Linked DNA regions of Homo sapiens. The protein of the gene in region 7 interacts with the protein of the main gene of each other region in a pairwise test. Each region holds a gene or a part of one and is shown on either strand. Other genes may lie near its edges. The genes, in order: ZNF793, PHAX, NOSTRIN, GPATCH2L, GSE1, ZNF462 and TULP3.

Evidence for each region.
Region 1: the proteins of TULP3 (region 7) and ZNF793 interact in a two-hybrid assay, tested with the Homo sapiens proteins (one large-scale study listed by BioGRID and IntAct).
Region 2: the proteins of TULP3 (region 7) and PHAX interact in a two-hybrid assay, tested with the Homo sapiens proteins (one large-scale study listed by BioGRID and IntAct).
Region 3: the proteins of TULP3 (region 7) and NOSTRIN interact in a two-hybrid assay, tested with the Homo sapiens proteins (one large-scale study listed by BioGRID and IntAct).
Region 4: the proteins of TULP3 (region 7) and GPATCH2L interact in a two-hybrid assay, tested with the Homo sapiens proteins (one large-scale study listed by BioGRID and IntAct).
Region 5: the proteins of TULP3 (region 7) and GSE1 interact in a two-hybrid assay, tested with the Homo sapiens proteins (one large-scale study listed by BioGRID and IntAct).
Region 6: the proteins of TULP3 (region 7) and ZNF462 interact in a two-hybrid assay, tested with the Homo sapiens proteins (one large-scale study listed by BioGRID and IntAct).

What each region holds. Positions count from the first base shown.
Region 1 is NC_000019.10:37,505,342-37,510,097, reverse strand, and holds the start of ZNF793 (zinc finger protein 793), read right to left. Parts: upstream 3,160-4,756; 5' UTR 3,132-3,159; exon of another isoform or gene 2,791-3,131; intron 1,834-2,790; 5' UTR 1,695-1,833; intron 1-1,694. UniProt on the Homo sapiens protein: May be involved in transcriptional regulation.
Region 2 is NC_000005.10:126,598,996-126,604,034, reverse strand, and holds the start of PHAX (phosphorylated adapter RNA export protein), read right to left. Parts: upstream 3,089-5,039; 5' UTR 3,073-3,088; coding exon 2,977-3,072; intron 466-2,976; coding exon 1-465. UniProt on the Homo sapiens protein: A phosphoprotein adapter involved in the XPO1-mediated U snRNA export from the nucleus.
Region 3 is NC_000002.12:168,805,308-168,809,606, reverse strand, and holds part of NOSTRIN (nostrin), read right to left. Parts: intron 1-4,299. UniProt on the Homo sapiens protein: Multivalent adapter protein which may decrease NOS3 activity by inducing its translocation away from the plasma membrane.
Region 4 is NC_000014.9:76,210,579-76,215,299, forward strand, and holds the end of GPATCH2L (G patch domain-containing protein 2-like), read left to right. Parts: 3' UTR 1-3,765; downstream 3,766-4,721.
Region 5 is NC_000016.10:85,661,822-85,665,321, reverse strand, and holds part of GSE1 (genetic suppressor element 1), read right to left. Parts: intron 2,342-3,500; coding exon 2,229-2,341; intron 1,979-2,228; coding exon 1,708-1,978; intron 308-1,707; coding exon 194-307; intron 1-193.
Region 6 is NC_000009.12:106,869,200-106,873,498, reverse strand, and holds part of ZNF462 (zinc finger protein 462), read right to left. Parts: intron 2,555-4,299; exon of another isoform or gene 1-2,554. UniProt on the Homo sapiens protein: Zinc finger nuclear factor involved in transcription by regulating chromatin structure and organization. Involved in the pluripotency and differentiation of embryonic stem cells by regulating SOX2, POU5F1/OCT4, and NANOG.
Region 7 is NC_000012.12:2,914,567-2,918,865, forward strand, and holds part of TULP3 (tubby-related protein 3), read left to right. Parts: intron 1-4,299. UniProt on the Homo sapiens protein: Negative regulator of the Shh signaling transduction pathway: recruited to primary cilia via association with the IFT complex A (IFT-A) and is required for recruitment of G protein-coupled receptor GPR161 to cilia, a promoter of PKA-dependent basal repression machinery in Shh signaling.

The DNA.
Region 1 (4,756 bases), on a different chromosome or scaffold from region 7:
TAAGCCACTGTGCCTGGCCAAACAAGGAATATTTAATGACCTGGAAAAGTATCTGTTATATAAATGAAATTATCTCAATTCAAACTTGGAAATTTTGTTTAAACACAGCCACATCTTGCCTCTCCCCATGGTGCTCCTCCCCCCCAATGAATATCCCATTAAATTAGAGATCAAAAACAGACAATACTAAGATTAGAAGCTAGGGAACCTCTGGCAGAGTAGTGACTGGGAGGGGCATCATGAGGGCACGGTGCTAGAATGTTGTTTTCTGATCTGAGTGCATTACCCAGGGGTATTCCCTTGTGACAATTCATTGAGCTACATATTTATATACATTTTTGCATATATATCACAATAAAAAGTTTATGTAAAATTTCTTTTTAATTATTTGCTCTGAAACCTGGCACTGAGCACAGTATAGGTGGTGAAGGGAATCAACATGGAGAAAAAATTACCCAAACTCCTTACCCTGGCTTATTATTTCACCCATGCTAAGCAGCTATCTGTCTTTGATTCTGTGCAAGTGAAAAACAGGGACTATCTGCTTTTAAAACTAAAATTTGACCTATGTGGGTTCTGAAAGATGTTACCTGCCTTAGCATCCAGCTGCCTTTATTTCTTAAGATGCTACAGGCATTGTGCTTTGTCTGAAGGTTACATAAAGATCAAACGTAATAATTTTTTAAAATTAAAATATTGTTTTGACATTGCACTTTTTCATTAATGGTCAAAATCTTATTTTCTAACTCAGAAATAGAAAGTCAAATACTGCATGTTCTCACTTATAAGATAATAATGTGTACACATGGATATAGAAAGCAGAATAATAGACACAGATGACTCTGAATGGAGGGAGGGTAGGAAGCGGGTAAGGGATGAGAAATTATCAGATTGGTACAATGTACATTATTCAAGTGATAGTTACACTAAAAGCCCAGGCTTCCCCACTGTGAAATATACCCATGTAACAAAACTGCACTTATATCCCCTAAATCTATTTTTTCAAATCTTATTTCCATTTTATTTGCAATCCCATCTCAGCCATTTTAATAACTATTAGTTCAATTTTAATTTCAGTGAGGAACAGTTTCTAAAAGTAGCTTACATTTTGTTTTGTGGCGGTTGTGGCTTTATCTGTCTTGAATTTTTTCTGCCAGGACTTTATAAGGAATTGATTAGTGGAGGTTAAAAATGGCTATGCCTAAAATATATAGGACAAGGCAAAAAGTTTCTCAGAATACAATAAATTCCAAATCTAGTTTCTCTTCCTTTGATAATTTAAGTTGAGCCTAGATAAAAGTATTTTCTAAACACTCTGTTTGCTCTTTCAGCCAAATCTTTTACATTATCATTTTATTTTATTTTGTTTATTTATATTTATTTATTTATCTTGAGACAGAGTCTCATTCTGTCACCCGGGCTGGAGTGCAGTGGTACAATCTCGTTTCACTGCAATCTCCACCTCTTGGGTTCAAACGATTCTCCTGCCTCAGCCTCCAGAGTAGCTGGGACCTCAGGCGCCCGCCACCACGCCCGGCTAATTTTTGTGTTTTTAGTAGAGGCAGGGTTTCACCATGTTGACCAGGCTAGTAATTCCTGACTTCAAATGATCCACCCACCTCAGCCTCCCAAAGTGCTGGGATTACAGGCATGAACCACTGCACACAGCCTACATTATCATTTTAGATACTTACTCAGTAAATTTGTTTTCTAACCACGGGCAAGGTCACATCCATCCCCGCTGTCACAGAGTCAGAATGGATTTCCAGAAACCAGCCTCACTCTTGGGATGCTGGCACAGATGCGTATGTCATTACCTTTGCCAGAAAGAGCCTTAAAGGAAACATTAGGAAAAAATATGCATTAGATCCCTAACAAGAATAGAAGCCACGTCTTTAGTAACATGTTACTTTAGATAAGTTTAGCACGCGATCCTTTCAAATTATTTTCATTATTGTAGAGAACAATAAAAAGGGTGTGGGTTCAAAAAAGAGTTTTCAGATGGGCCTTGGTGGAGAGGAACTGGCTGCTATTCAGCTAGGGAGTGTCACCTGAGTGAAATGTGTTCCCGCTATGCAGGCTTGCAGCCTCAAATCTGTGATTTTCCCATCCCCAATCTCCACATTTCAGGACCCTCAACACCAACCCCTATAAGTCTCCTAATCAGACACGCATAGTGCCCCCAATCACTGGCCTCCAATCTCCAACCCTCAGAGGTTTTCATAGTCACTGATATTCCCCTATGTTCAAATCTGACCAGGAGAGACTACAGGTCAGTAACTACAAAGAACACCGATCCGATCTGATTGCCAGTGAAATTACACAGCCCCCAATCATGAATCCACACTGATTGCCAATGATATCCCAACGACTGAGGATCAATTGTTGATTCTCACAGTCCCACTCCCACCCACAAGTGACAGTCCGAATCACTGAGCCTCATTGAGGCGTACCTTTAAGATAAGCACACTTGACTCTATTCTCCATTCCCTGATCTACAAAAGTCCAATCGTTAATACTCTCCGATCCTCCACCGATGATATGAAGTAAGTCTCAATCACCGATGGCCCAAAACATTTCTCCAAACATTCATCACCACTGACCTCCCTCATTTGAACCCCAAAGTTTCCACAATCACCAATTCCAGTACCCAAACTATTACTGCCCACAGAACTTAGAACCTCCGATCACTGATCCTCTCGGGCTCCGATCATTAACCTTAAAGATCTCTAAACCAGTGTCTGAAAAATCCCAACTGACCCCAGACCCATGAAGACCACTATTACTGACCCCATGCACCCTGAAAATCAAGACATTTCACAGAACTCGCATTTATTGATTCCCACACACTCCCAATCCATCTTCTTCAGAGACCGTGCCACTGACTCCCGCAAACCTCTGTCCGCCACCACTGAGGCCCCGCGAGGCTCAGACGCCGAATCTCTTAACCCTTCAGTTCCCTTGTCATTGACCCTCACGGGCACCCATAGCTGACCCAGTCGGCCACCGTAGTCGGCAGCTCACTATCCTCCACTAGTCCCAGGTTTGACCGTTTCTCAAACCGTGCCTTCCCATTTATGCTGCATCCGCGCCCTGAATCTGAAATTGGTCGTCCTGCCACGCCGCCTCACCGCGGTATAAGGTCGTCCCATCCTGAATGGCCGGTGCGCAGACTCAATTGCGACTTTGAGGCTGTCAGCCGCCACCCGGCAACCTTCCAGTGAACAGGATTCTGGGTTTCTCAAAGCTGTAATTGGAGGTATGATGGCGACGCCCACTTGACTCCTACCTGGGGCGGCCATGTTTAAAACTGTGCCGTAAAACGGATGATTAAGCCCTTTGCTAGACCAAAAGATAAGGCTATTTTAGGACAAGGAGAAGGAAGTGTCCCTGGATCCCTAAACAGAGATGTCGTCTCTGCTCTTAACTCAGCATCTCAGATGCCAAAACCTCCTGTGGCCAACATGGTGGCGCCCAGACATCAAAGCTGAGCTTTCTTTGTCTCCGGCAGCCTGGTAAGATGGCCGCGTACATTTTTACCGCTTCTTACGTGCAATGGGTGCAGCCTCTCCTAGGAGCTCCCCTATGGCAATGTGAAACTCTTTCTGAGCCAGCTCTAGGAGTTAGAGAGCAGCGAAGAGACTCGCTCTTAGGGAGACAGAGACAGCCTAAGGACGGGCGTGACTTCACGGAAAGGGCGGAGCCGCAAGGAAAGGGCGGGGCTGCCGCAGCGGGAAGAGATCAGAGTTCTTAGCGCATAATGGAAAGGAAATGTTGAAAGCAAGGTTTTTACCTAAGGAGGCTTGCCCGAGAAGCCGACCTGAGGAAAGAATGAGTGCAAGCAGTTTATTTGGTAGGTGGGGGATGGAGAAGTGAGACGGGAGCGATGGGAACGAATATACAGTGCATAGGTGAGCAGATTAGCTCTGGATCAATGAGGGCTCAGTCAGCTTGGGACCTCTGGGGGATTGTGTAGAAACCACTTCCAAGTTTTCACAACCACCAGGCCGATGAAGCTTACATATGTCTACACCATCTCTCTTCCTAATTGTTTTAGGGCCACTCCAGAGGTGTTAAAGCTCCAGCACTTCGAGCCTGCCTCGTGGGAAAGTCTTAGGCTGAGTCTGTAGGTGTCTGCAGTTAAGAAGCCAGCGGTCTGCATATGATTGCTCAGGGGTGGTGGCTGGGTCCAACAGCATTCACTACAGGCCTGCCTTGAATACCACCTAGCGCAGTGCTCCGCATATCACAGGTATTGGAACATCTCTAGAAAAGATTGCCTTGTCTTATGAAAATGGCTTTTTAAAAAAATCCTAATTCCAACTGGTCATCCTAGCAACTGATACAATAACTGACCTCAAAATGTTTCCCAATGATTCCTACCTCCTACTATTCACACTCTTATGTAGTTCCCTCCCACATTGTACCAGGGTTGGACTGTGAGACTAATAGAATGCAGTAGCAGTGATAGATGTCACTGCTGAGATTAAATATAATAAATGGCACCTTGAGTTCTGTCTTAAAGGCTGCTGCCCCCACTTTGAGAGAAGTTAGTTGCCATGTCATGAGGATACCGAGACAGCCTATGGAGAGGCCCAGGTAGCAAGGAACTAAGCCCTCCACCCAATAGCCTGGGAGTAGCTGGGGCCTTCCTATAACCAAGTGTATCACCCTTGGAAGCACATCTCCCAGCCCCAGTCAAACCTTGAGATGACAGCAGCCCCTGCCAATAGTTTGACTGCAACTGCGTGAGAGA
Region 2 (5,039 bases), on a different chromosome or scaffold from region 7:
TGATCCCATTTTTTTGCCACCATGCATATATTCATCTAGTTCCTTGTCTAGATCTTTTGTATGCTCTTGAGATTCCTTCCTAAGTTTCTTGGCAAGCAAATAATTGTAGGTCTCGGATTGTCTGCTTCTGTCAATAGTGCCCTCCATTCCCAAGATACCAAGTTCAGTGGCCACTGCATCTTGATTCTGTTCCTGCAGCACAGCACCCCATATGTTGTTAATCTTCTTTCCTCCAGCAACAGGTGGTTTCTGACTGCTCTGGCCAAACTGAAAAGGCTCTGGTTTGGGAGGAGGGTTAAAACATTTCTGTCGTTTGCGTTTCCAAAGACAGCTATCATCATCTGAATCAGAAAAACTTTCTTCACTTGAATCCACACTTTCAACAGCTCGATAATGTGATACTGGTGCACATGCAGTTGCCGTGTTCTGGAAGGCCCTCATAGCACTGTCGCCACCTAGCACTTTCTGCAAGTGAAAAGAAACACAATCAATTTCACAAAACACATAAACTCCACCTACCTAATTTTTAAAAATTTAGAGATTCAACTTTGCCATTCCAAAATGGAACTGATCTTCAAAGACAAATCTGAGACCAATCAAGTTCCTACTTTTCTAAGTTCCACATGGAATTTGCCAATTTAAAAGCCACAAATTCTTATCTTTACAACTAATGCAGCACTTTGTTCTAAGATCTCCTTCTACTATATTACCAAAGCTCTTGTCACCTTTAAAAGATTTCAAACTTTTCAGTTACTGTCAGAATGTTTTAAAATGACATACATAATAATTGTTACTTTTTTTTTTTGAGACAAAGTTTTGTTCTGTGGCCGAGGCTGGAGTGCAGTGGAGCTATCATGGCTCACCACCTCTCAGGCTCAAGCGATCCTCCTACCTCAGCCTCCTGAGGGACTGGGACTACAGGCAACCTTCACCATACCCAGCTATTTTTTTTTTTTTTTTGCATTTTTTGGTAGAGACGGGGTCTTGCCAAGTTGCCCAGGCTGGGCATGTATTTTTTTTTTTTTTCTTGAGATGGGAGTCTTGCTCTGTCACCCAGGCTGGAGTGCAGTGGCGCGATCTCGGCTCACTGCAAGCTCCGCCTCCCGGGTTCACACCATTCTCCTGCCTCAGCCTCCGGAGTAGCTGGGACTACAGGCGCCCGCCACCACGCCCAGCTAATTTTTTTGTATTTTTAGTAGAGAGGGGGTTTCACCGCGTTAGCCAGGATGGTCTCGATCTCCTGACCTCGTGATCCACCCGCCTCGGCCTCCCAAAGTGCTGGGATTACAGGCGTGAGCCACCGCGCCCAGCCTGGGCAAGATATTTTTAAAACCCCAGAGTCCACGGCATTAAGTTTATTTACCAAGTCATGGGTCAATTTATGTAAAAACAACCTGAGATTGAAAAACAAAATATCTTGGTACTAATTTCCTAAACATTTATATGCAAAAGCAAGTATTTGTCTTTGTTAAACTCCTACTACGCTAGAAATGGAAGTTGGGACTATCTATCTTCCTATCTTCAAATAATAATCAGAGATAACACTTACCAGGCATTACTGCACACTGTATGCTCCACAGAATCCTTGCAATAACCCTATCAGTGGTACATCATGCCAATTCCACAGAGGTAGACAAAAAGCAGTGAGGCTAAATAAACCTGCTGTAGGTCACACATCGGTGGCCCCAGGATCTGAACACAGGCAGCCTGGCACCAACGCCCTCTCAAAGAGGTTGCTACCTACCAAGGCAGTCAAGACAAATTCCCGTTTAGAAAGCAGGGAAGCTGGGCCGGGCGCGGTGGCTCGCGCCTGTAGTCCCAGCACTTTGGGAGGCCGAGGCGGGTGGATCACTTGAGGTCGGAAGTTCAAGACCAGCCTGGCCAACATGGAGAACCCCCGTCTCTACTAAAAATACAAAAATTAGGCCGGGCGAGGTGGCTCACGCCTGTAATCCCAACACTTTGGGAGGCCGAGGCGGGCGGATCACCTGAGGTTGGGAGTTCGAGACCAGCCTGACCAACATGGAGAAATCTCGTCTCAACTAAAAATACAAAATTAGCTGGATGTGGCCGGGCGCCGTGGTTCACACCTGTAATCTCAGCACTTTTGGAGGCCGAGGCAGGCCGATCACTTGAGGTCAGGAGTTCGAGACCAGCCTGGGCAACATGGTGAAACCCCGCGTCTACCAAAAATACAAAAATTAACCGGGCGTGGCAGCGGGCGCATGTAATCCCAGCTACTCGGGAGGCTGAGGCAGGAGAATCGCTTGAACCCGGGAGGCGGAGGTTGCAGTGAGCCGAGATCGCGCCACTGCACTCCAGCCTGGGCAACAGCGTGAGACCACCTCAAAACAACAAACAAAATCAGAGAGGCTAATGCAAAAGCCTAGTGCCATGGTACCGCATGACAAAGCTAGGTTCGGTGGAAACATGGAAAACCAGATCTTTGAGTGAGCGATAAACTTCATTCCTGGGCCTCAGTCTCCCTTCGGCTCAGGGAGAAAATGAGCATCACAGGCTGTTTCAGGCTGATGTCCCTAGATGCTACATATTTGGCAAAATCTGCCCCTTTATGGTTACCTAGCGGCGATGGAGTGGGGAAGCCCCAAGTTTAGAAAAGAAAGAGCGGTAGGCGGAGGTGAGACGTCTAAGAGGCCGCCGCAAGCCGGCCTCCAGGAGGCGCCAGGGCTCGCGCGCCCCGCCTCGCAGGGAGCAGCCAGTTCGGGGTTCGCACGGCCAGCCGCTGCCGCTGCCGCCGTCGCCCCTCGCCCCTCGGCCCCCGCAGCCCGGGCTCCGTGAGCCCGCCTGGGGGACGTCTGCTCGCCCCTTCTGCGGCCACTGACCCGACAGCCTGGGCTCCTCGCTCTGGCCCGGGCTCCTAGCTCCCACCCCTCACCCTCACCGCTGCCTGCGCGCTCCCCGGGGCCCAGGCTCCGCGCGCCCAGCCACGATCACCCACCCTCCTTTCACACTCACTGGCAATTGCAGCGGCCTGTCGCTGGGTGCGACCGTCATGTCGGAATCCGAGTCGGAAAGCTGCCCATCTTCCATATCGCCGACCTCCAACGCCATCTTCCCGCGGTGCGCTGCGCTGCACAGCGGCGGGTCAGGAGAGCACTTCCGGCGGGGCAGCCGGAAGGCCCGGCGGCTCGGCTGCTCGGGCGCCCCCGCGCGGAGGCCAGCCTGTCCCAGCGGCCTGAGGCGTCCCATTGCATTCCAACTACCCCGGGAAAATGAATCCCTTGTTCCCCCAACACTTTTCTTCCAAACTTTATTTTCGTGCAAACATAAATATGTCACGTATCGCGGTCGTCTGGGATTCCTCCCTTGGCCGTACATCCTTCCCCTGTATGCTCTGGACAAGCCTCCCCGCTTCTGTTCTTGCTCCTCCACAATCCACTCTACATATTGCTTCCAGGGAAGCCTTTCAAGCTGTATAGTCCGCCCTCTGTATCCACTCCCCATCCACGGATGCCGAACCTGCGGATGGGAAGGACCCACCGTGCACCCCCACATAATGTAAGGGGCTTGAGCATGGCGGATGTTGGTATCTGTGGGGGTCCTGAAAACAATGACCCGCGGATACCTAGGGAGGATTGTACCTTAGCTCGAATCTTCCAAGTGCATCCCTCCCCAAAACAAGGACTGAGTTCTCAGCATGGTGTTTGAAATGTTTGTTTTCCGGTGTCGTAAAGAAATAGCAACATAAATTTAACTTACTGAATAAGGCCATTTTTACTTTCTGCAGAAAGGGTACACTCGCCAGCAGTTTTGCCAGGAGAGTACACTGAACAAAAGGAGACAGGGTCATTTATAACCTGACGTGTTTACCTTACTGCTGTGGCTGGTTTTTATTGGCTGGACCGGACCTCACATTTTGTATTTGTCCCGATTGGCTAGCAACTTAGAACTTTTTAAAAGAGGCAAAGGTAGAGGAGAACAAAGGAAGGAGGAAGTAACTTGTGGAATGCTGAGAAAGATGAAAACACTTTTAAATAAGGAAGAGGAACAGGCTATGACCTAATGCTTGCTTGGACTAGTAAAAGCATGCCAGGGCAAATATTTAGGCTAAATTGTGGGAGCTAAGAACATAAAGTACATTTTTTTTTATTATGGCTAGCAGATATTTAAGAATGTTAGCACAGATCTTTGAATAAATTTTGCTTTTAAGAGAAGTTACTATTTATTCCTAATTAGACGGGGAGGAAAGTTTTTGAAGAGGAACCTCTGTTTTACTTTGCCACATGGCAAACAAGGTCATGTGGACTGGGCATCTGGTCACTGGTCCTAGTGTGTCCCCCTGCCTAACCGCTGGCGCGCTGAACCTGTTGTTCCTCAGGCCAGGCCTCTGCATTTGCTGTTCACTCGGCCTGAGAGGCCCTTCCCTCAACCCACCCCATTCTTTAAGGGTTATCTTGGAACCCGCCTTTGCGAAAATTATAACAGTGAGAAAATTATGGCAGTGGGAGAGATCTGATCTAGCCAACCCCTATCTTGCTTTTAGCCTTCAAGCTGCCCTTAATTATTCCTGTGCTTGGGCCTGTCAATGTAACTTTGGGAGACATTTAGTTTATAGTTTAAATGATAATAACCCTTCCCCAAAAGCCAACCGCCTTTGTAAAGCTAGTAAGAGACCACCAGGGTAGACGGATAAAGGAGGCTGAATTCTGCTAAGGTGTAGACATAAACCGTTGCCAGTCATTATCCCAGAGGTCACAAGGTATGCAACTTTTCCATTACTCTTCCAGATAATATCACTATTGTAGACCCTAAGATTGGCGTTTTGAGATATCTTTTCAGATATTTTGCATGTCTGACTACCAATGGTTCCACCTGAACCTCTAACCGCTTCTGGGTTCCCACACAGAAGTTGTCGAGCTGCTTGAGGACAATTTCCCATACCCCTATGACTGCATCCCCAACCAATAAGCAGCAAGAACCCATTGCTTAGCCACTCCATCCCTTCCCCAAACTATCTTTGAAAAACACTAGTCCCTGAATTCTCCAAGAGATTGATTTGAGTAATAACTCTGTCTCCC
Region 3 (4,299 bases), on a different chromosome or scaffold from region 7:
GCAGTAAAGAAACTTGTTTAACCTCTTTGTTTACTCCTATGTTACCTAAACATTTCCACTAGATTTCTCCCTAAGCCTTTTGTTTTCTTCTATAATACTTAATAGCATCCCATGAAACACACCTCAGTGTCATGAGAAGAAAATGCCTAAATGTTTAGTGGGGTACATACTCCTGAAATAAGGTCATTTCTCAGCCTCCCTCCCCCTTTGATCTATAACCATGTGACTGAAAGCTATCCAAGGAGATGTGAGGGAAGGTTTTGTATGAGGTTTCAGTAAAGGCTTGTTTGCCCTCTTTTCTTCCTTCTGGACTTGAAAATGAAGGCCAAAGCCATAAAGTGGTATTGAGATTGGACATAATGCATTAAGATCACAGAGTGGAAAGAGAAAAAGAGCCTGGGTCCCTGATGGCTGTGAAGAACACCACACGAGCCCTCAACTCTCTACTTTTGGATTTATTTTATGTGTAAGAAAAATACAATGTTGTTTTCTAAAGACATATGTATTTGGGGTTTTTCTAATATGCAGCTGAACATAGTTCTAACTCATACAGGGTCTTTTTGCTTTGAATTATGAAACACTTTTATGTTTCATAACATAATGATACAGAAAATAATAATACACATTATGTACTCACTACCTAAGTTATAGAGATTTTAACACTTTGCTTCTGCTTTCTCTTTAAACAACTATTTTTTTCCTTTTCATAATTTATTTGGCTATTCTGAGGCATTTATTCTAACATATGAACATTTGTCTAATTACATTTCTTTTTAAATCCCCGTTGGGATCCTAATTGGAATTGTATTACATACATGTATCAATTTGGGAAAATTGACTTTTTAATGGTGTTTAGACTTTCTATCCAAGGACATAGTAAGTTTTTGCATTTGTTCAAATTTTATTTTATGTTCAATAAAATTTTATGATTTTCTTTATAGGTCCTGTGGCTTTCTTATTTGATTTATTTAGAAATATCTCACAGTATTAAGCTATGGATTTTTATGTATTGTCTTATTGACTTCTCTCCAGCCCACAGCAAAGCAGAAACAAAGACTCAACAAAAAGCCATGGGGCCTTGTGCAAGAGAGAAAGACCTGGATGCATGTTTACGGAGTAAATTCTTCTGCTCTCAAACACACTATAAAGCTGGGGCTGAGGATGGGAGAAAAGAAAGCAGAGAGATGGATTCGAGGGATTTAGAGTGGGAAGGAGAAAAAGAACCTCCCATTAGGGGAAGCAGGAGTGGAAGGAAGGGACTCTGAGATGAAATGTCCTAAGGGAAAGGCCCTACCAGTCCACCATCACCACAGGATAGTCTGCACATAGAAGTTACCTATGGGAGAGAACAAGGGACCCTGGACATCAAGCGTGGAATGGGGGCATGTAGAGAAAACTCTGCTCATAACCAATGTAGAAATGAGTAGAACCAGTTGAGAATTTTTCTATGTGCTTGGGTTACAGGGGCTGCTGCATTTCCTAAACTTATCAAGCCATCAAAACTCCCTAAGACACATTTTTAAATACTGTCTCAAGGGAACTAGTTTTAGGAGGCTAGGCCATGCTGAAAGTTTATAAGCCAGTGATTGAAAACTCAATTGCCTTCAGTGGCAGTGGTGAAGCCTGTGGCAAAGGCATTCACATTCAACCTCTTAAAGTAAGGGGCTGCTGGACCAAAGCACAGTCTATGGCTTCCATTGACCCATGGGCTACCAGGTCTAGATTTTGGAAGATGATTTTCTGTCATTTCATAGACCAGTACTTTCTAACTTTTGTCCCAAAATGGTGCACATAGCAAATATTTGTACTGGTAGAGTGTGGTAAATGGACAAAATTGTTCCAGGAAGAGGGAACTGGCCCATGGCTTTGCCTCGTACCTCGCTCCCAGCCATACTCTGCCAATTCAACGGTGCAGAGGATTTGTGTCTAAGGTACACCTGTAACCCACCCTCAAACCTCAAACGCCAGTATGCCCAGGCACATGCAAGTTGAGAAGATCTTCATACTTGTTGTTAATTTAGCGATCAGATAAGAGATGTGCTTACAAGAGCAATGGAGAGAATCTTTACCCTTGATCCTATATACTATACGCCAAAAATTCCCCCAACAAACCTTGATCCAGATTGAGATAAAGGTGACATCAATAAATAAAAGATTTGCTAAGAATATTTTCATTATCCCAGCATAAACCCTTATTTAGAATCAATCATTCTGTACTTTTCATTATGTACCATCTACTGAGACTTGGAGACAAAAACTGTGAAAAGCAGACCCACTTAAATGCTACAGCAGACTTCCAGAGACCATATAGTTCTCTCTCTCTCTGTGTGTGTGTGTATGTATGTGTGTGTGTGTGTTCAGAAAATCTTGGAACTTACCTGCTTTGTGGGGGTGAAATCACTTGACTTTAGTTTTGGTTGTCTCACTCCTACCTCACCACACTCCCACCCACCAGAGAGGACTCTGAAAGGGTTCCATGGAGCACAGTTTGCAAGCCACCAAAGTCTAATTCCCTTATTTACAGTTAAGACCCAAAGAGATAAGGATAACCTAATTAGTTAGAGACAGAGTTGTGATTAGAAATGTTAGGTATGAAAATCAATTAGAGAATCCATCAGAAACAAATACATTTATAAATGGCTAATCTGTATAATCACAGTAAGTTTACTCCAAGTTATAGTAGCCTTTAAGTGTTATGTGCAATACAGCTGGCTTCTTGATGTCATTAACCAGCACAAGAAGAAGAGCTTGCTGAGAAGAAGTGCAGTCAGGTGGAAGGCAATTTTGGTGTTCTTTTCCTACCCATTGAGCTTTTAAATATCCTAACCCCCTATCAAATATTCATTCCAGGGAATAATCTACTATTGATTCTACATCTCCATATGAATTCATATTAATATGCTGCTTCTCCTGGGGACCATTAATTATTGGGGAAAAAAACACGATGAGGTTTTTCTCCCCTGATAAAGGGATTTCAGTCTGGTAGTGGAATACCTGGGATCTTCCTGAGCCCCTAAAAAAATAATAACCCCTTCTCAAATAGACAACTGGTCTATTTGACAGACATTTCCCATTCGGCCATTAGGAAAATGTTTCTTCCCAGCACTTGTAAGCAAATTCTGTTGATAAATATAGCCATTACAAAAAACATTTAGTAATCCAGCCAGTCAGCACATGAAATGTTTAGACAGGCGACTTGTAAAGATTATAAAGTGCCTATATCAAGCTTGGCCCACCTGCTCTTTCTGCTTGAATGATTAAGAGGGTTAAATTTAGTTCTAGAAAAAGTTATAGAAAAATTTATTTTTATTGATGCTAGTACAGAAGGATTTTTTTTGATTAGTGATGATCCTCACAGTGTTAAAGAAACCATGATATTCCCCTTAAATTTAACACAATGAACTTTGCTGACTGCCTTTACTACGCCAGGCACTGTGCTACTGATATCATGTGAGTTCTGATTCACTGGGGGTGATGTTTCAAAGCACTGCCCCTCTCTGAAGGGATTCCATGTACTTGTTCACCATCTGCGTAGTATTTGGAATCCCTGTGGCAGACTGTCATAGATTACGGGATATGGAACATTAAAGAGCATAGTCTACTCCATCCTTTCCTCCTTTTACTTTACACACAAGGAAACAGAGGTCCAAGAAATGTGGAATGGCATGTTACACATCTCACTGATGCACACTGGGGAGGCTGTGGGCCACGTGACACCCATGCCATATGCAGCCTCCTTCTGTATTTTTGCAGCGAGTCAGATTCTCCTAGGAGCTACGGACCATGGCACCGGCACCATCTGAGTTAGTGACAGTCATTGTCTGATATCCAGGCTAAGCCACCAAGATGGGAAGCTCAGGTTGGCATCTGAGCCAGGTTACCAACCTGAGGAGCAGCCTGGTGCCATTTCAATGGCCGATGACATGCGGGGAGGGGCTGACTGTGTGGCGCCCAGAAGACTTGCTTTGACAGACCCCTTCCTGGATACTGTATGAGTGTGTAAAAAGCAAAAATTTGGCTACAGCTTGTTACTTGTCCTTGATTTCTATGTGATTGTTTGATAGGAAGGTGCTATTAATACTTTCTTATGATTGGATTCTTTCCCTTAGAGATAATTGGATCTTACTTCGCCTTTCTTGCACATGGATTTGAAGATGAGTTCCCTAGACATATTTTTAGGTTTAAGAGCTAAACCTAAACCTTCATAGGCAATGAAACATCAAGGCCCAGAGCCAATTCTTTTCCTTGTCAAAAACAGAACTTTAAAGATATCTTACAGATATCTTTTTCAAATAAGTT
Region 4 (4,721 bases), on a different chromosome or scaffold from region 7:
TCTTATAACAACCTAGTTTTGTTCTTGAGAGTGACCAGAGCAAGAGAAAAGTCAATGAAATTTTGCAGATCTTGCAAACCTGTGGCAATAAGAAGGTATTATCCTTTCTGTACCAAGGCACAACTGATTCCTAAGTGAGGGGGATATGTGTTCTGAGATGTTAATGTTAGTGATAGACTGTTTTCAACACCTTGGTAAACATTTCTTTTGACTGTTAGCAAAAGCTGCCTTAACAGTCTTGGCTTTTAGAAATGCCCCTTCATTCATTAGATGTGTATGGAACACATCTTATGCCAAGCACTCTGCTAGGAGCTGGGTATACAGAGAAGAAAGGCATTCCTGCTCTCATGATGTTCATGGTCTTCTGCGGAAGAGACCAGAAAAAAAGTATTACAATGTAGAATGAAATAAGAATGACAGGGTATTTTGGCAGCAAGGAGGAGGGCACTTTAACTCAAACTGGGCAGTGGAAGAAGTAAAAAAAAACATTGAAAGAAATCCTGAAGGATAAGCAGGAGTTAAGAAGAGTGGATGAAGCCCTCCAAGGGTAAAAGCATGGTTTATTCAGAGCACTGCAAGTGTTTTAGTATGGCCCACATGTAAAGCTTACAGAGGAACAAAGAGAGAAAGGCAAGAGCCAGGAAGTGAAGGGTCCTGTGTATACTGGCTTACTTGTTGAGTTGGAGAACTATTGCCGTATTCCTCTGCTAAGCTCAGGGTGCATTCGTGGAAACCCTACTGCAACTGGCCCATTGTGCATACAAAGCTGGAACTGAGATGTGAACAGATTTGCATTGCCTTGATCACCTTCCGTGGGAAATATAGCTAGGCCCACTTATTGGTAGGAGCTACTGACATGTTAAAACTAGGTTAAACTGAATTGGAAGTAATGGTGTATTTGGAATCATGGCTGACTGATTCCATTACATGTTCTAGCATGATACCAGTCTGAGGTTATTCCCCTTGAACCACCGACTTAGTAGAGTTTAATGCACAATGTGATGGTCTTAGTTCCTTGTACTGTTCTTCAGTGTCAAAGTTGTTCAACTACCAGTTAAGTTTTTTGGGCTTTGTTTCTCAGTAGTGACAATAAATTTGTGTTGATCTATTTACACCTTTTGGACTGAACACCTTAGCAATCATTGATATTTTAAGCCTACAGGAAGTGCCCATGGGATAAAACCAATCTGCTGGCTCACACTAAGTTCTGATCCCATGATTTTGGTCTCATTAATACCGTGCTATAAATAAAGTTAGCTAAATCTTTTGAAACTGCATAAAAGTGAAATAATTATGAGTTTTGGGCCAACATTTTTCCTGAACAGCTTCTGACTGACCAGCATTTTAAATTAGGCGATGCAGTCTAGCTTTTGTACATAGAAATAAGAAAGTGACTTATGTTCCATTATTAAAATAGTATAGGGAGGACAGGTAAATTACTAATTTTTCATTGCTCATAGTAGAGAATTAAGGTATATTGACTAGTGAAATAGAGGATTATGGGGATCATATGAAAATATGATTAAAGAGATTATCACTAGAAGAAAAATTCAGACTGCTAATTATGAGAAAAAACATGTATGCACAACCAAACAAATCACAAAAATGAAAGATGTCTAAAACCATAGAATAGGAACAAATGTACCTGTCATATTAATAAAAGTAAACTTATCTGTAGATAAAAGGCAAAAATGTCAGCAAACACTAATTTCATGTTATAAGATTCAGAAAGGTTGAGCAAAAGTAAACCAAGCAAACACAAACAAGAAAATGAGTTGTAGTCTGCATATCAGGCAAGGTTGAACTTAGGGAAAAGGAACCGGAAAAAAAAAAACCAAAAAAAACCACGACATAATGCTAAAGGGTGTGACTCACGAGATAATGTTTCTAGATATCTGTGTACCAAATAATGGAAAACCATTTATGTATTGGAAACCATAGGAGACACAGGAAGAAACAAATACAATGTTAGTTGGATATTTTAATTCAATTCTGTCAATTCATGACAGATCAAGTGGATAAAAAACTAGGACATGGGATGATTTAAATAAGATACAGAAGATCTAGTTGATGCATATTAGACTTTACCCTAAAAGTGGTAACTACACTTCAAAGTATCCATGAAACATTTCCCCATTTGACTGTGTATTAGAGCGTACAGAAAACATAAGTTTCAGAACGGAAAAAAGGAACAACAGATGGCATTTGCTGATAAAAATGCAATAAACTTAGAATTTGAGGATAGGTGGTCAGAAAAAAAAATGCAATAAATTAAAGCCAGAAAACACTGCTCATCTGCAATCCAAAATGTTTTTAAGCTCTTCAACTATTCTTGGGTTGATTAGGAAATGCAAAGTATTAAAAAAACATTTCATATCTAAAATATAAACTTGTTCCTCTGAGATACAAATAAAACAGTGCTCAGAGGAAAATTCATTGCCCTAAAATTTATGTATTAAAAAATAAGATAAATGTCATATAACTCAAAATATTAGGAAAAGGAATCTTTTAAAGGCAGGCTAAAAGAATCAAGAAAAATTAATTAGAAAAATGAGGAAACAAAGCTAATTTTTAAAATATGTAGTAAAATATGTAACATTTTAGCTAACATTACAAGAGAAGACAAACACAAAATAAGAATTACCAAGTATTGAATAGGTAAGAGTCATAAAATATTCTTTGCTCAACTGTATGCAAACAATTTAAAAACTTGGATTAAATGGATAATTTTCCAGGAAGGTATAGTTTGCCAAAAAATGACATCAAAAGAAATCTAATATAACAATTGTCATAGAAGAAATGAAGTAAGTATTTCAATTAGCATGACAGACTAAATACTTTTAAAGACCCAATGAAAACAAAGAAATGCATTTGGAGAATTAACAGAAACTTTTTGTAACACCAATTTTTTATTTTACATTTTAAAGCATGGAATGGAATTTATTGTAAAGACGTGTATTTTATAGAATCCAAGCAAAAGCTCACCAGCCAGAGATAAAGTGAGGCCAGCTCAGGGAATGTGAGCAGTGGCGATTTATTCCCTCTGGTGTTCCATGTTAGCCTGACACAGAGCCCCCTCTTCACATTCTCAGGGGCTCTTGATCCAAAACCTTTTTTAAAAAAAATAATTTTAGACTTAACAGAAAATCTGCAAAAATAGATTTCCTGTGTGCCCTTCTCTCAGCTTCTTCTAATGTTAACTTACATACCAATGGTACAATTATTGAAACTAGGAAATTAACATTGGCACAATCCTATTAACTACATACTTTATTTGAATTGTAGCTGTTTTCCCAGTAATGTTGTTTTTCTGGTTCGGTATTCAATCCAGGATCCATATGTACTTGGGTCTTTCTGGGTTTTCTGTTCCACTGGTCTACTTGTGCATGGTACCACACTGTTTTAATTATAGAGACTTTATAGTATGTTTTAACAACTGGCAAGGCTAGTCCCCCTTATAATTTTTCCTATTGTGCTTCTGGCTATTCATACATGTTTGTTTTTCCATGTGAACTTTAGTATCAACTTGTCTAAATTCATTTTTTAAGGTACATTGGTATTTTATTGATATTATATGATATTAACTGATTTAGAGAGAACTAACATCTTTAAAATGTGGTGTCATCCTATCCAAGAATAGGAGATGTATTTCCATTTATTCAAGTCTATTTTGTGCCTTTTAGCAGTGTTTTAAAATTATCCTTGTGTAGGTTTTGTGCATTTCTTGCTAAGCTTATCCCTAAGTATTTAATTTATTTGCTAGTAAATGAGATTTCCTCTGCCATTATGTCTTCTAACTGGTTATTGCTCTCTATATAAAAGCTACTGATTTTGTATGCTAATATATCTTGCTACCTTACCTAATTTTTTTAAAAAAATAAACAACAGAAATTTATTTCTTATGGTTTCACAGTCTGGGAAGTCCAAGATCAGGGTGCTGGCTGATTCAATGTCTGGTGAGAGCTTGCCTTCAGGTTCATAGATGGCACCTTCTAATTGTGTCCTCACATGGTGAAGGGAACTAGTTAGCTCTCTGGGGTCTCTTTTATAAGGGCATAAATCCCAATCACTAGGGCTCCACCCTCCTAATCTAGTGACCTCCCAAAGGCCCTGTCTTCAATGCCAACACTTTGGGGGTTAGGATTTCCACCTGTTTTCGGGGGACACAAACATTTATACCATAGCAGTCAGTAACAAACTCTTTTTGTTTTGCAGCCAAAGGTCAGTCAGTTTTATCTTCTTAGCTTAGTATAATCTAAGCCCTAAAACCATGAAATGCATGGGAAAGGTTTTTTTTTCTCTTTTTCAACTTTTATTTTAGATTTGAGGGGTGCATGTGCAGGTTTGTTACCTGGGTATATTGCGTGATGCTGAGGTTTGGGGTATGAATGACCTGTTACCCAGGTACTGAGCATCCGTACAGAATTCTTTTACTTTTGAAGTTAGTTTTATCATTGCTCCTCTAGAAAAACAAACAAAAAAACCAAAAATTATTTCTAAACACCCAGAATAATAATAAGAAATGAAAAAAATCTATAGAAGTAAAAAATGACAGACATTTATGCAGCCAAAAAACACATGAAAAAATGCTCATCATCACTGGCCATCAGAGAAATGCAAATCAAAACCACAATGAGATACCATCTCACACCAGTTAGAATGGCAATCATTAAAAAGTCAGGAAACAACAGGTGCTGGAGAAGATGTGGAGAAATAGGAAC
Region 5 (3,500 bases), on a different chromosome or scaffold from region 7:
CGCCTTCAAACTGACGTTCCGTCCCAATGACTGTCACAACTGTGCAAGAATCGTACGCTGGTACAAGAATGGAAGAAGACAGCCTGCAGGAGGCCACATTCACAATGATGAAGACCTCGAGTGGTCGCCTCTGAGCCTGGGCAGCCCATGGGATGGTCCTGGGTGGTGGCAGGTGGGGCTATCCTTCCCTTACCACTCAGGGAGACGGCAGGACTGTCCCTCGGAGAGTTTGTCAAGGAGTCGGCCACTGCTGCTGACAGTGCCTTCTGCTTCATGGCACGGAGCATTTCAACAAGTCTCTCTTTGTCTATGAGAAAAGCAGCCTGAGATTAACGAGCCAGTTGCATCATTTTTTGGAGAGAAGGACAGCGGGATTCTAGCCGAGCCTTGAGGGGCAGGCAAAGCACTAAAGCCCGAAAAACCAAAAGCAGGTGTGATGGGGCAGGCCCAGTTGAAAGGAAGCAACCATCTCAAAGCGAGCCCAGATTGCTCTCGGCATCCACTACACAATGTCCTAGACGTGCTCCAAAGACAGCTGTCCGTGCGGTGACGACGCCTCTGTGAATCACTGTGCCCACGGACCTCGGTGGTGACGTGCGAGGATGTATTCTTATTTCAAGTCAGACAAGGTGGCCCCAACACAAAGAAACACCCCAAAGACCCAGGCCTGGCCTCTGAGGCAGGGTGCCTTCTCCCCCACTCCTACCATTACTGCCACTTCCTGAAGGGGAAAGATGACCCCACGATGTTCCACGCAGCAGATCCCTGATGTCACCCGGCCCTTCTTGACTGTGAAACTCAAGGGCTGCATCGCCCTTAATTTTTTTTCCTCCAAAAATTCAGGGAAAAAGATGCTTTGTATCTAGGGAACTGGGCTGGCAATCAACACGTCACTAGCCCGCTAAGAGAAAGGGAAAACTACTGACTGGTTAAAAGGAGAAAGTAAACGGCTACACCCTGATCAACACCTTGAAGCTGCTCAAGGTCCAAGAAGTAACTCTGCTTTCCTTCGACTTTCTCCCAGAGAGGAGGCCAGGGGCCCACGAGGACTTGAAAGCGTGCGTAAGGGGCAGGGCCAGGAACGTCAACATCTGGGCACCAAGCCAGCCTGCGCTGCAGGCCAAGGAAGCCAAAACCCTGAGCAGGTGTTGTGGCTGCGTTGTTTCTTCTGCTATATGGATTCGAGCCCAGAGGGTCTGTCCCAATGTGGCCCTGTGTGGCCAGACTGAACTGGAAGCATCTTTCAAGGCAAGCCATCTGCTCAGTGTGTGCTGCCCTGCTTGGCAGCCCTTCCCCAGGCCTCCGGCCACCAGGACACAACACCCAGCAGACCACCTAAGCGGTCCAGCAAGAGGAAAAGCCTGCAGCAGACAAACCTGGAACACCTGGCACCTCCCCTCACGCCTGGTGGTCACTGGAGCACTCGGCTCAAAGAGCGCCTTCTCGGGCGCTGGGAGATGGATGAGTGACATGGGTAGTCCTCAGGTCAAGATGGTGGGGCTCTCAGAGCAAAGCCTGTCAGGTAAGGCTGCTATGGAGGGCTTGTAAGAACAGAGAGGCTGTTCCCGGGAGCCGGGAGGAGTAAAGGGGCAGCCTCAGGCTCAGTGATCGCAGATCCTGCCTGGAGTCCACCGGCCCCACCTGCTGCTTCAGAAACCCACTTCCACCCCAGTGAGCCCCCACCTTCCTACCCAGGCGAGGCCCTACCTTTCCTCTTCTCAGCGCTGATGTGGGTCAGGTTGAAGATGGTCAGGAACTTCTTCTTTTCTTCGAAGTTGGGACTGTTGTTCATCTCATCAGGGCTGTAGCGGGTAGACAGCGCCAGTCTCGGTGAAGGCGTCTGCCGCTTGCTCTGAATTGTTGGGGGCGACGGGCTTCTCTCTCGCAGCATCCTCCGCCGCTTCCTCCGCTTCTGGGCCACCAATTCCTCCTTCTGCTGTTGGGTGGTCAAGCCAAAAAGTTGCAAAAACTCTAGCTTCTAGATTGGGAAAGAAAACAAATGAGTTTGAAGCCACTGGCAGTGGTATGCTTGCACTGTCCCGGGGTCCCCTCCTGGGGTCCTCGAAGTGTGGGCCGTAGCTGGCTGCGCCTGGTGGGAGAAGAGCTTCATGGGGCGAACCCGCCAGGACTTCGGAGGAACCTAGCAACAGTGGGGTGGACTGCAGGGTGTGGACGCTAGGAACGAGAGCCCAGCCCAGAGCATGTCCGTGGGGAGGAGAGCCCAGTACCTCAGAGGACGTGTCCAGTTTGAGGGGCGGCTGCTCGGCCACGCAACGGAGGTGGGCCCTGACCTCCTCCTCATCGCTCTCGTCGTAAGAGTCATCGAGGTCGTAGTAGTACCCTGATGGAGAAATGGTTGTATTCAGCCAGACAAAGAGCCTTCATCTGTCCAGTGGACATGCCCGCAGGGCCTCATGTGTGCAGAGCACCTATCAGGCCAGGCCTGCTGGCACCTGAACACCCTGAAGGCCAGTTCCTTTCAACCGAGGTGGAAACCAACATTAACCCAGTCCTGGGGCTTTGCAGGACCGCAGACACCAGGCTTCCCTGGGATCCATGGCTCCCAGTAGCTGGGTGGTCCCCTGGGCTGACAAGACCTCCCTCCTCCCCCTGGCAGGGAACCATTCATCACACAGGCCTGGGGCTGTGTCCACGGCAACACAGGGCTGCTTGTGCACATGCACTCCCCCATGCTGTGGCCATCTGAGTCCATCTCCTGGGAGGAGACAGGCACACACAGGCCTGAGCTCTCTAAGACACAGAGAACAATAGCAGAGCCCCTGCCCAGGGGCGCTGGGGTATCTCCCTCCTCCTTTACAAAGTGAGTAGGGGAGAGAAATTTGGCTGGGCCCTCCATCCAGCCTAGACCAACAACCAGGAAGACCGCCTGTGCCCCAGCTTCTATTGAAGAGGAGGCTGAGCTCAGCACTGGACAGGACCTGAGTGTTCAGCATCAGGAAGAAAACTGGGCTGGAGCCCCTGCTCCCCTCTGCACACTCTCGCCTGCTCGGTTGCTCTTCCTGGCTCTCTGGAGAACTCAGGGAGCCGCTGGCTGAGGACGCCCCACCCCCAAGCAGAAATAAGAATGAAGTGCCTGACCTCCTACCCTGACCCGGGGCAGTGCCAGCCGCCGCGTCCTCAACCCCTGACCCACCTGCTGCAGCTCGTGGCAGCGGCCCTGTATGTGGAGCCCCCGCTGAGCCCAGGCCGGCTCTCCTGTTATGCTGCACTATTAATATTTAAAACTATCTTATTAGCCTCCGCTCATCACTTATTCATCATGCTTGTCTGCGGAACTATCTTCACAGGCGGGCTTTGATTTGGCTTTTTGGGACAATTTGCATCGAGGCAGGACAGGCACGGGGACTAGGGTCTGCCTCCCCTACGAGGGTGTCATGCTGCTACAAAGAAGCCAGTGCACTTGCCACCTGGGGCCTGGGACTACCCCAGGCAAAAAGCAGGAGTGGACGGAGAGGGGCAGGTGGCTGGCATGCAGGCTC
Region 6 (4,299 bases), on a different chromosome or scaffold from region 7:
CAGAGCCAATACAGGGCACTGAGGCTTCAAAAGGGGCCCTATGAAGAAAAAAAGTACAACACCTTTTCTACAAAAAAAAAAAGTCACCAGCATATCTTCCTGCCATAACAGGTAGGTGGCTCCTTTTTTTCTGAGTTTGATATAATTTTAAAATGTTTATTTCCTAAAGTGTCCCCTACATGGTGTCTTGCTTTTTTTCCCTATCATCTCCTCTACAATTCAGAAAAGGGCGCTCTTAAGTTAAACACACTTCCTCAAGCTATTGCAATAAGTTATATCTCTCATATCAAATAATATATTACAATTAATTTTCCATTATTCTCAGATTTCCTTCTAGAACTCCAAGGATATACTCCTGGCATAAGCAACTGGAAGAGATAAACCATCAAGAACATAAGCTATTAGCAGACTAAGTAATAACCAAGGCCGGGTCCCATCAGCTGAGAGCCAGGCCTCTGGAGGCAGTCCCCACTCCATGTGAATCCTGGCTCCCCCACTTTGCAGCCTCATGACTTTGGCTAAATTACTTTACCTCCCTAAACCTCAGTTTCCTCTACCGTATGAACAGTCCCTGGTTCATATTAAATGTTAAAAAAAAATAAAAACCGTTGTCCAGTATTAACTATGAGTCAGTCCACGAGGGAAGACAGCATTTTTTAAGGTCCTATGTGGTATTCCCACTCTATAGAGTTGGCAGATTTTTTTGATGAAGCAATCATATTTATTTTCTATTGTTCTTACCCAGTATTAGAACAGACAATATTCAATTGACAGCAGAAAGGGGGGAAGTTCTTGCAACTGAACTCCGATATTTAAATTAAAATGGTCTTTTCTGAGGCCGGGCATGGTGGCTCATGCCTGTAGTCGTAGCACTTTGGAAGGCCGAGGCAGGCAGATTGCCTGAGCTCAGGAGTTCGAGACCAGCCTGGACAACACAGTGAAACCCCGTCTCTACTAAAATACAAGAAATTAGCTGGGCATGGTGGCTTGTGCCTGTAGTCCCAGCTACTTGGGAGGCTGAGTCAGGAGAATTGCTTGAACCTGGGAGGCAGCAGTTGCTTAAGTGGAGATCGTGCCACTGCACTCCAGCCTGGGAGACAGAGCAAAACTGTCTCCAAAAAGAAAAGAAAAAAGAAAATGGTCTCTTCTACAAAGACTCCCTTCTCACTTATTGTTATCAAATACTAATTAGTCTTCAGAGAAGACTATTTAAGATAGAAACCACTGAAGAGAAAAGATTCTGGGTGATAAGTACTTGTAGCTGGTATCTATCTTTGGTCATCTTCAGCTATAACCCAGCATTCAAATTGTACCCCAAACGAAGGACCCTCCATCAGGCCCATGGCAATCTGGGTTGAATGATTGGTGCTCAATTGCTGACTAATTAGTCATAACACAGAGGGATGATGTAATTAGGGATTAGAATGGCTAAACATTCTGGACCACAGTGGCCTTATTTTGGATTTTAAAATGCTGGGACTGGAAGGACAGACCAGCCTGTGACGCTTGGCTCAAGTCAATGGCTGAAACCCAAACTGACGCCAGGTAGTAGTCATAGTCCATTCCTTTCCCCTCTGAAAAGGCATGTCTTTGTTCTTCATTTCTTCTAACACCCAGGGTGTAGGTAGAGAAGCTCTATGGATCACTTCAGAGAGGACTATCACATTTTCTGTCCATTAATAATGCAGCTGTTTTCTGCTGTGCTCTATTCTCTACTTCGTTCGTTTTCCAGGAAAATCTCCACCTAGGCCTACTTAACCAGTTCCCTTGAGTTTCCATCTGTCCTTTATCAGAAAGGCTGTAATTGTAACCCCAAAGTCACATAAATTGTCCTCCAAACCCAATTCTATTTTTTACAATAGGAACTGGCCAAAGAATGTGTACCTGAGCACTGGTCTTCATATTTCACATGTGTTAGGTACCAAATTACAAGGTCTTTTTCTACTTGCTATAATCGCTTTCTTAAAAGCAATGCCTTACTTCTTCCTGTAGGATCTTCCCCAGTGGACAGACTTCTTCAATTTGGCTAGTCAATTATTTTCCTGCTTCTCTTCTTTTCCTTCTCCCATCCAACCAGTCACTCCTTCCCAGCAAATTTCCACTATAAAATTACAGCAATGCTTTAGCCTACTTTCCTGTTAGCTTTAACAACCTTGTCTATTTTCTACTTGTGCTGATGCTACTGTTTGCTTTTCTGACAGGCTAATCCACGTATCCTTTCAAGGCCTAACTTCCCTACCATGATAGCAGCTGGAGCTCTAATTCACAGGTGCCTTCCAAAGCTTTTCATTAGCAATAGAAATGAGATGGTTTAGAAACTCATTTCTTAATCTGCAGGTAAGTATTGGAACCTTTGTGCAGCAAACATCTTTCAAGTATCCCACATTGTGCCACTGAACAATTATTTTTGGAGGAATAAGTACAATGTTAAGGCACATTTGCAGTGTTAACGGGGAGAATTTTCCCTTAGAGGACATCGGCTCCCACCCCCCAGCCTCTGGCATTTCCCAGTTCAAAAGAGAAACACTCAGCTGACATGAGCAAAACTGAAGAATAATGGCATTACCTTCTTAAATCTGAACAGGAAAAAGAAGAATTCCAAAATTTGGAGGCCTTAGCGTGTGTTCTGGTTCAACTGCTCAGACGAGAACTTAAGAGTGAGTTTGGCCTTCCCCAGCTGGGCTCTGTGGCGGCTAAGCTCTCTCCACAAATCCTGGGCTTTATTACTTCTGACACAGTTGTCTCACCTGGGCCTACAGCTCCTTTTGTGCTCCAACCAAGCTGAACCCAAAGGTAAGACTTCGCTTCCTCATCTTGGGCAAATGCTTAATTTCCTACTAAGTGATCCTAAAACATTCTAATCAGGATCTATTGGTTCCTAGTAGAATTTTCTCCATTTTTCCTGGTGTGGTCTTTGTTAAAATTTGTCTATGTGAAGGTCTAGCAAATAACTTCCTGAATTACACAGTTCTCATCTTCAAGTATTTATTTTTTGAACAAATAAGTACCTGTCAAACTTCCTTTCACCCTAAAGAACAGGGTCTACTCTTTGAATAAGGTTGGGGGTAAGATGTGGACAGGCGCAGCACAAGTATTTTATTAATATCCAGAAGCAACATGCAGTGAACTGAACAAGCAAACACATGAAAGCAAGGAAATCAATACCAAAATACCCATGACCTGGCACACAAAAAAAACCTTCCCTCCAAGAATAACTCAAGAAAAAATGTCTCCAGCTAGGAATTAGGCAAGAATGCTTTGAAGACACCAAGTAATGTGCTCACCAGAAGTAAAAGGCAATGCATTTGTAGGTGACAATACTAGCACCTCCTCACACCACACCACTCTATCCTTTGTCCTTCTAAGCCGTGAAAATAATTAACTTTGTGTTGGAATCACACATCCAAACACTTTAAAAATCCTGTACGTGCTTCAGCTGATGAGAATAGGAGGACTTAGAAAAAAGATAAATTTTATGATAGCATTTCCAAGCACAAAATGTAAATCCAAATTGCTTCCAATGGATTTCCCTTTTATCAGTGTGTGCAGTTCTCCAAATGCAAAGTTCAAGGGGAAAAAAAAAATCCAAAAGAGCTTCCTAGCATACTGCAAATACAATCTAAATTCATAAAAACCCATTTTCCCACATTTGGAAACTTCTCCTGGGTCTTATAAATCCAAGAGACAGTTCAACTTACAATTATCTTCTCTCCAATGCCCTCCCAACCCAAACTTTTTTTTCTTCCTTTAGTACTGGCATGCAAACCATGCTGTTTTAACTTCTTTCCTGTTCTCCCAGTTCTTCTGGAACATTTTATTTTCGACAGTCAACTCATTTGGAGGAGTGCCACACTGAGGTTCAACTGTTTACAGCGTTAACTGTGTTTCTGCCAGAAGTCCACATCCAGCACTACCTTCTCCAGACTGCCTCCTGGATTAAAAATTGATGCATTCGTTTGGAAGGAGCTTAGAAAATGTGGAAACTTCCAAACATCACTCTTCTTCTTTACAAAATCACTTTTGCTCATCCAAGAAGAGACAGAAGTGGAAACCCATTGCACCCTTCCTTACAGGACTGTCCCATTGCTCATGGTTAAATGTCTGTGTTGTTAAAAGTCATCTTAAGGATGATTTCATGTATACTGGGAAAATGGGAAAAGGTTAGCCATTAGTCTGCAAGAGAGTTGGGCTCCAAGAAGATACACGGAGGGCACATTTTGAATGAGTAAGAACATTGGAAAACCACCAGTAATTGTTTCAGACTGGATTTCACCCTCTCAGCCATTCATCAGTATTACA
Region 7 (4,299 bases):
ACACCATTTATCGAAATACTTTCCTGTTGAGTATATCTTGCTTTTATTTTTACCAGTTTCACTAGGATACTCTTTCTTGTTTTTGAGGAGAAGTCTTTCTCTGTTGCCCAGGTTGGAGTGTAGTGGCGCAATCTTGGCTCACTGCAACCTCTGCCTCCCAGATTCACGTGATTTTTGTGCCTCAGCCTCCAGAGTAGCTGGGATTAGAGGAGTGCACCACCACGCCTGGCTAATTTTTGTATTTTTCGTAGAGATGGAGTTTCACCATGTTGGCTAGGCTGGTCTTGAACTCCTGGCCTCAAGTGATCCAGCCACCTTGGTCTCCCAAAGTGCTGGGATTACAGGTGTGAGCCACCATACCTGGCAAGATACTCGTTTTCAGGGTATGTGGGCACCTTAGCAAGCTGCAGAATGGATTTTCTTTTCTTTTCTTTTTTTTGAGACAAGAGTGTAGCCCTGTTGCCCAGGCTGGAGTGTAGTGGCATGATCTTGGCTCACTGCAACCTCTGCCTCTCGGGTTCAAGCGATTCTTATGCCTCAGCCTCTCGAGTAGCTAGGACTACAGGCAGACGCCACCATGCCTGGCTAATTTTTTGTATTTTTAGTAGAGACAGGGTTTTGCCATGTTTGTCAGGCTGGTTTCAAACTCCTGGCCTCAAGTGATCCACCCATCTCGGCCTCCCAAAATGCTGGGATTACAGGCGTGAGCCACTGCGCCCAGCCCAGAATGGATTTTCTGATTCTTGCTGTGATATTTCTGACATGGATGCATATTAGGTAGAGTACATTTATTTCGTCTGATGAAAATGGATTAAAGTACAACATAGTTCCTTTGAGCCAAGTTGCTCATCTATTTGTATGATGAGAGGTCATCACTGCACTGAATGATATTTTAAGAAGTCTAGTTTAAAAATTTTAGTCTTACCTTCCTATGATCTTGCTTTGTGGGCGGGGAGATTAAGTTAGTTTTTTTATTTTGTTTTTTTTTTTTGAAACAGAGTCTCGTTCTGTCGCCAGGCTGGAGTGCAGTGGTGCAATCTCAGCTCAGGCTCACTGCAACCTCCACCTCCCAGGTTCAAGCGATTCTCCTCCCTCAGCCTTCTGAGTAGCTGGGACTACAGGCGCATGCCTCCACGCCCAGCTAATTTTTTTAATTTTTAGTAGAGATGGGATTTCACCATGTTGGCCAGGATGGTTTCAATCCTTTGACCTCGTGATCTGCCCGCCTCAGCCTCCCAAAGTGCTGCGATTACAGGCGTGAGCCACCGTGCCCGGCCGAGATTTTTAAACAAACTGATAGACTGCAGACAACTAGCCTGATGCTGGTTGTACTCTGTGGTTGGTCAGTCTGTTGGAAAACTGTCATAGTGTAACCTTAGCCCATCACCTCTAGGGTGACTCCTTGTCTAGGAAAATTGAGAATTAGTTAAACTATCATTAATTTAAATGAAGTTTTATTTATTTTGAGATGGTTGCTCTGTTGCCCAGGCTGGAGTGCAATGGCGCGATCTTGGCTCACTGCAACCTTTGCCTCCCGGGTTCAAGCAATTCTCCTGCCTCAGCCTCCCAAGTAGCTGGATTTACAGGCTTGTGCCACCACATCCAGCTAATTTTTGCATTTTTAGTAGAGATGGGGTTTCCGGCATGTTGGCCTCGAATTCCTGACCTCAAGAGATCGGCCCACCTCAGCCTCCCAAAGTGCTGGGATTACAGGCATGAGCCACTGCGCCGGTCAGAGCTTTATTATTTTATTGGATAAAGTTATTTCATGGAAATTTCCACCTATCTGATCTCCTTTAATTTCTTACTGTTTATTTTGACATCACCATTCAATATTTTAGCAGGATAGTAAGACATACCACTAAATTCTTGGGAAGATAGATTCTTTTACAGTTCAATTCCCAAGATAATTAGGAAATTTAAAAGTGATTAAGTTTTAGTTTATATGACACTTAAAATCACGAAGGCAGTGTGTTTTAATTGCATTTAGGGCATCTAACCATCAGCTCTGGCTTTCTTCCTGGCTCCCTGACTTACTCTATCTTGGTAATGAGTCCTTCATTGATGTAGCCTCGTTTAAAGCACTTTTAGGTTTTCAGGGAAGTAAAATATAGATGGAATAGGAATTGACATTGTTACATTCAAACACAAGTAGCACTTCTCTCCTCCCCCATCCAAACTGCATGACGGTTTTCACCAAGATGGCAGCTTGCACATATATGTTTAATGGTATTTTTCTTATTTGTAAACTTGGACAGTAGTAAGATCATTCAATACTGAGGTATAGTAGCTGTGGCCCTGATTACAGTTTGAGTCTACAGTTGTTTTTTTCTTAAGTCATTGGTCTAAATGAGTTTGATTTGTCTGTAAGTAGATAGAGAGAGGCTTCCCCAGATACCTTGGCAGGAACACTGTGGTCAGGGGTCTAGTCTCCCCTTAACAAGTGAGAGCTTAGTTTGTCAGTGAACTGGATATAACCAGGTCCTTTGGCACAAATTCACGCTAGTTAAACCCACACCAGTAAGTTTTAAAACCAGAACCCCAAGTTATTAATTTATAAAGGGAGCTCTACTCTTTCAGTGTGTATTCATGTCTACTGTTCATAATACTCTTTTCCTGGGAATACGATACCTAAGAAGTTAAACTTCAAATTAGAAGGCTTATTGGTGAGCAAGGAATCAGAGGGAATGAGGTCAGGAGTTTGAGACCAGCCTGGTCAACATGGTGAAACTCCATCTCTACTAAAAGTTTAAAAATCAGCTGGGCATGGTGGGGTGCACCTGTAATCCCCGCTACTCGGGAGGCTGAGGCAGGAAAATTGCATGAACCCGTGAGGCAGAGGTTGCAGTGAGCCGAGATCGCACCACTGCACTCCAGCCTGGGCAACACAGCGAGACTCTGTCTCAAAAAAAAAAAAAGATACTTCTCTTTCTTGGACAAACCTGATAACCCTATCAAATTCTAGCTCTTTGGCCTCCCTTTTCTAGACCACAGCAGAAAACTCCTTTTCTATAGAAAATATTTTCCTTGGCCAGGTACGGTGGCTCATGCCTGTAATCCCAGCACTTTAGGAGGCCAAGGCGGGCGGATCATGAGGTCAGGAGATCGAGACCATCCTGGCCAACACGGTGAAACCTCATCTTTACTAAAAATACAAAAAATTAGCCGGGCGCGGTGCCGGACGCCTGTAGTCCCAGCTCCTCGGGAGGCTGAGGCAGGAGAATGGCGTGAACCCGGGAGGCGGAGCTTGCAGTGAGCCGAGATCGCGCCACTGCACTCCAGCCTGTGTGACAGTGCAAGACTCTGTCTCAAAAAAAAAAGAAAATATTTTCCTTGCATGTGAACCCCATCTCTACTAAAAATACAAAAAAAATTAGCTGGGTGTGGTGGCAGGTGCCTGTTATCCTAGCTACTCCGGAGGCTGAGTCAGGAGAATTGCTTGAACCCAGGAGGCAGAGATTGCAAGTGAGTTGAGGTTGCACCATTGCACTCCAGCCTGGGCAGCAAGAGTGAAACTCCGTCTCAAAAAATAGCTACAGCATTCATTTTTGTTTTTGTTTTTGTTTTGAGACAGTCTCGCTCTGTCGCCCAGGCTGGAGTGTAGTGGTCCAATCTCGGCTCACGGCAACCTCTGCCTCCCAGGTTCAAGTGATTCTCCTGCCTCAGCCTCCCAAGTAGCCGGGATTACAGGCGCTTGCCACCACGCCTGGCTAATTTTATTTTTTAATAGAGACGGGGTTTCACCATGTTGGCCCGGCTGGTCTCAAACTCCTGACCTCAGGTAATCCGCCCACCTCGACCTCCCAAACTGCTGGGATTACAGGCGTGAGCCACCGCGCCCAGCCTACAGTATGTGATTTTGTTTCATCGATCATTTCACAGACTATGTATGAGATGAAATAGCTGTGGCCACATAGATAAGATATGGCAGTTTCTTATGATTTCAGTACTTCATATTTACCACCTTTTCAGGCAAGTTACTTTTTTTTTTGAAATGGAGTTTTGCTGTTGTTGCACAGGCTGGAGTGCAGGGGCATAATCTCAGCTCGCCGCAACCTCCGCCTCCCAGGCTCAAGCGATTCTCCCGCCTCAGCCTCCGAGTAGCTGGGATTACAGGCATGCGCCGCCACATCCGGCTAATTTTTGTGTTTTTAGTAGAGACGGGGTTTCTCCATGTTGGTCAGGCTGGCTTTGAACTCCCGACCTCAGGTGATCCGTCCGCCTCAGCCTCCCAAAGTGCTGGGATTACAGGCATGAGCCACTGTGCCCGGCCAGCAAGTTACTTTTTATCCATTATAC